Regions from separate parts of the Homo sapiens genome. Here region 1 is linked to region 2. A link means that fine-mapping ties the variant in region 2 to the expression of a gene that starts in the linked region. Tissue or cell type: whole blood. Region 2 holds a variant in brackets; the other region holds the start of a gene. All regions are shown on one strand. Distances are from middle to middle.

Region 1 (2,604 bases), 64 kb after region 2:
CTTTCAGTTTTTGCTCAAATATGTCACCACAGAGAGCCCTCTCTGACCATCCTGTTCCCAACTGCCAGGACTCTGCCTCCCCTACCTTCTGGATCCTTTCGCTGCTTTGTTTTTGTGAACGGCACTTTTCACTTTCTAGGAGGCTGTGTAACTGATTTATTGATTTTTGTCTGCTTTTTCCCCCCAACCCGCAAATACTAGAGCCACAGGGCAGGAGGCTTTGCCTATTTTGTTCCTGTGTCCCCAGCACCTAAAGCAATGCCAGGCACTCAATACATATTTGTTGAATGAACACGTGAAGGATGCGTGTGAAGTGTTTCGCAGGATTCTTGGCATCTTAAGATTATTGCTGCTGCTGTTGTTTGCTGTGTGACTTGAGCACATTCCTTAGCCTCTCTGGCCCTCTGTCTCGCAGTCTGTAAAATGAAAAGAGTGAACCACTAAAGATCCATGAGCTTCTTTCAAACTCTAAAAATCTTGGTGCCTCTGAATGCTCAAGAAAGTTCTTCCCAAACCTCAACAGGAACTCCTTTTTCTTTTTTTTTTTTTTGCAGTTCTCAGCAGCAGCTCAGCTGGAACTTAGCCGGAGGTGCTAAGGACTCCTTTTGCAATAGCCCTTCCTTTACTTCTTTTGACTCTGAGGATCAGAATAGGGTATAGGTTTGGGATCACGAGTCAGCCCAATGTTTCTTGGAACAGTTTCCATTCAGATAGTTATGTTTTATTTCATTGACTTTGATGTGTTGCTTCTGGCACTTTATTGTTTTCAATAGAGGGCAATTCATGATGTGCATAATTAAAGGTCATTTGATTTTCATTTCTTTGTTAAGAGTTTCATAAAAACAAACAGAGTTCAGGAGAAAGCAATTGCCAGACCATGCGCCCAGAGACCATGTGCCCTGATTTGGGATTTGGACACCTGGTCCTTGGAGATGAAGGTTCCCACTGTCCTGCCATAGGTGGGGCTCTGCCCCTGGCCTGGAACGTCCCCTGTGGGGATAGGGTCATCCCTCAGAAGGCTCTGGAGCATCTGTTTCAGGGGCTCAGGTCAACAGGACCAAGACCATCCTCTCAAGGCTCTGCCCTTTCTCTCAGGGCCCCTCTGAAGAAGTAGCTCAGAACACTCCTCTGCTTCTGTGGGGGCAGTTTCATGAGTAAAGGCAGCTTCAGGTTCCCGGTATTTGGAATTTGGTATTCGCTGAGTAACTGGGATGGCCTCGATGAGGGGCAGAGGAACAGGTCTGGCTAGTTCTGTGTTGTTTATACTGGGGATTACTTCACACGTCCCAACCGGCTTCCCCGCCCCATTTGGTGGGGGCTGGCCCTTGGCCCTCCAACTCCTTTACCCTACATGCCTGAGAAGCCAGGGACCAAGATGGATCTTCTCCTCGACATCAGCTAAGCCTGGAGGACTCTTCCCCTCAGAGACCATGGAGAGGGACAGCCACGGGGTGAGTGTGACCTCAGGCCTCGGGCCAGATTCTCCCAGCGCTGAGGAAGCAGGGCTGAGGCTGGGAGACAGGTGGGACAGCTACCTCTGTGTTTCAGGTTTGGGGGAAACTGGCTGTGCCTCTTCTAGTTTGAAGCTACTTACGATCAAGATCTCTTGGTCTCCTTTTAACGTGGTTCTAGAAAAAGCCCCTGGGAGGAGAAGCTGCTGGGATTTGGGGTCTGGCTGGTGAGCACCCCAGGGCTATGTGGCTGAGTCGTGGGTTTCCTGCTCTGTGGTCTGTGAGCACTCCTGCCGGGCATCCATAGTGTTACAGCACCAACTTTGCCGATTGGGAATCCAGGCTAATCTACTTTAATCTCATTTTTGCTGGTTGGAAAATCAAAAGCATTCTAACTGCAATTCAGGGGCATCTTGTCTAAACCCCTCACTACACTCCTAAACCTTCCCAGAAAACTGTGACTTTCTGGGTGCATTCAAGATTTTCAAGGGGATGTTTCAACCTCCGTTGGTCACTTCTTTTTGGACTTAATAACTTTCATGCTTGGGAAGTGCTTCTTGATGTTTAACCACAAGTCCTGCTACCACTCAACTTCCTTTCTTCTGCTGCTCTTGGGGTAGGAGAAAGCAGCTGGCCTGTCCTCTGTGGGAAAGCCAGTCATACACACATGAAGGCTTCCAAAGATCTTGTTCTGCTGTGCCTCCACTTTCTTTTCCTCCAGGAAATCCCTTTTGTGCTCTCATTTCTCCTTTAGGTCTTGTTTTCTGCCCCCTCCAAATTCTCTGTACCTTACCGACATGGTAGAGCCTGGGACTCTGGGAAGAATGGGCTAGCACTGGGTTTGGGAAAGATCAGCTCATCCTATGTTTTGGCTTATAGTTGGCTTGTGGTCCATTCTGCACCCCCAATGTGTTTCTGCAAACTTTACCATCATTTTTTTCCCACCATTCTTCCAGCCCCCTCTTGACTTTTCTTTCCCAGGCTGCCTCCCTTGCCCTCTGCTCTGGGCTCCTTCGTTCATGTCTCTACCTCACCAAAGTCACTTGGCCCTAGGCCTTGGGGGGTTATCAGAGCCTCTTACTGTTGAGCAGTAAGGGGGGTACACAAGGGCATGCAGAAGGTGAACCCTTAGTCACAGCCATGGGGCATCCTC
Region 2 (2,500 bases):
CCCGGCACCTGACTGACAGCCTGGAGCAGTATTTGCTGACTTTAGCAGCTCTGGCGAGGAGCAGAGCAGAGTAGGGGAAGTAAGGAGAAGCCCTTTGTATCCCTGGCTCTGAGGAAGAACAGCAGAAGACTGTAACAACAGGAACTAGCACAGCTCACTGAAGATGGCCCCGGGGGAGGGGGATGTTGTTGGGAAACACCGCTGTGCTCCAGTGGGAGGACCCTAGATCCAAGAGACCTGGTTCTGCCACCAAGTCCTAGCTGTGCAACCCTAGGAAGTTGCTAATACTGAGCCTCAGTTCCCTCATCTCTAAAATGAGGACAGTAGGACCTCTCTCCTATTAAGGATGCAGAGCTATGTGAAGCAGCACCTAACACAGTGGCTGGCACCAGCATCCCAGGTGCACGCGTTTTGGATTGCACCAGGCCCTCCCAGTCTCCCTCCCCATGCTGAGAGCAGCCCAGCTGACTCACACTGCCTGGTGAGGGAGATGCACTCCTCTTTAGACCACATCCCCTTGTTACTTCGGGAAGCGACAGATGGTTTCACCTGGACACAGAACTCTCCCACTTCTCCAGAGGTTAGGAGGCTGAAGTTTTCATGTTTTACTTTCTTGTGTGTGAACTGAAACAAAAATGATAGCAATTAACAAAATCCTTTTATTTCATGGCACACGGACACTGAGAGCTGGTGGGCCTTTAGAGGTGATTTCAGCCAACCCCCTTCAGTATCCTTTGTCTAAGATGACAAACCCCACAATTACCAATGCAGCACATGATCTCTGTAATGACCACAATTTTATTTTGTATTTTAAAAGAAAAAGCGGTGTTTTATAGATGCTGAAGATCTTCCCAGAAGGGGCTGGAATCAACAGTGGTGGAGAGGAGAGAGGGTGGATTTTGCAGATGCCAGCTCTCCCATAACAGGGGCGCCCTCTGGTAGGTTACACAGCCTCTCAGAGCCTTATTGCTTCATCTACAAGGGCTCTGGGGTGCCCAATTGCCCTAGTAGGCAATTCCTTTGAGGAGCATCTCACAAGAGCATAGCTCTGAGGGCTGAGGTGGTTTCTACTCCCTCCTCTGCCCACCCACCATCCCAGACCCTCCCTTTAGTCCATAAGCAAAGTTCCCAATGGCACACAAGGGTGCTTCCAGCCCAGGGGACAGGGAAGCCAAGGGAGTTCTGGCCCTGGGGCCTTGGGGAACCCCATACCGTGAAGTTTCCCGGCACCTTGCGAATGGCAATCTCATACTCTCGGAAGTGACTGAAGATGCTTTCATATGTGTCATTTGCGGGGGCCATCTTGGGCCTGGGTAGCTGAATCTTCCCGAGGATGAAGCCATTGTGGATCTCTAGGTTCACACTGCCAACTGTCAGAGTCACTAAATGGAGTTGGGGTGGGGGGGAATACCATGAGACTTGAGGGCTGAGGAGGGCCTGGGTGTCCCCGCCGAGACTTTGCCTCCAGAATTAAGCTTAATTAGAACCTAGGCCTAAAACTTGGCCAC[A/G]GGTTTGTCAATGCAGCAGAATGTAAGGACTTCTTGGGGAGCACATTAAAAATACATATACCCTAAAATCAGATGCATCAACCAATGGAATATGATGGACAGCCCAGAAATAAACCCACAATTGATTTTCAACAAAGGGGCCAAGAACACACAATGGGAAAAGAACAGTCTCTTCAACAAATGGTGTTGGGAAAACTGGATATTCACAAACAGAACAATGAAAATAGATCTTTGTCTCACCTCTTACGCAACAATCAACACAAAATGGATTAAAGACAAATGTAACACCTGAAACTATAAAAACCACCAGAAGAAAACCTGGGGCAAAGTTCTAAGACTTTGGTCTGGGCAAAGATTTCTTGGATACGATCCCTAAAGCACAGGCAACAAAAGCAAAAATAGACAAATGGGATTGCATCACACTAAAGAGCTTCTGCACAGCAAAAGAAACAACCACTAGAGTGAAGACACAATCTATGAATGGGTGGAAAATATTTACAAATGTTCATTGAATAAGGGGTTCATATCCAAAATATACAAGGAACTCATACTACTTAATAACAAGAAAACAAATAAACCTGTTTTTAAAATGGGTAAAGGACTTGAATAGACAGTTAAAAGAAGACATACAAATGACCAACAGATACATGAAAAAATGGTCAACATCTCTAATCATCAGAGAAATGCAAATTAAAACCACAATGAGATACCACTCCACACCTGTTAGATTGGCTATTATCCAAAAGATGGAAGTAACAAGCATTGGCAAGGATGTGGTGAAAAGGGAAACCCTTGCATGTCGCTGGTGGTGAATTTCTCAGCCATTATGGAAAACAGTATGGATGTTCCTCGAAAATCTAAAAATAGAGCTACCATGTGATCCAGCAATTCCCACTACTGGGTATATATCGAAAGATATTGAAATTAGTGTATTGAAGAGATACCTGTATCCCCCGTTCATTGCAGTATTATTCATAACAGCCAAGATATGG

The links. PIP is the estimated chance that this variant, and not a neighbour inherited with it, causes the effect.
Region 1: TMPRSS13 starts here. The variant in region 2 is fine-mapped to the expression of TMPRSS13 in whole blood (INTERVAL, PIP above 0.99).

What each region holds. Positions count from the first base shown.
Region 1 is chr11:117,928,134-117,930,737 of GRCh38, reverse strand. TMPRSS13 (transmembrane serine protease 13) reads left to right here and starts at 1,336. Exons shown (of 13, transcript NM_001077263.3): 1 at 1,336-1,451. The coding sequence starts at 1,431.
Region 2 is chr11:117,992,123-117,994,622 of GRCh38, reverse strand. It overlaps IL10RA (interleukin 10 receptor subunit alpha), which reads right to left. Exons shown (of 7, transcript NM_001558.4): 4 at 1,213-1,382; 5 at 474-624. Among named protein-coding and RNA genes, the nearest start is that of IL10RA, 7.0 kb to the right of the region's middle. RefSeq lists an enhancer at 1-42. The variant A/G (reference allele first, on the strand shown) is at 1,509.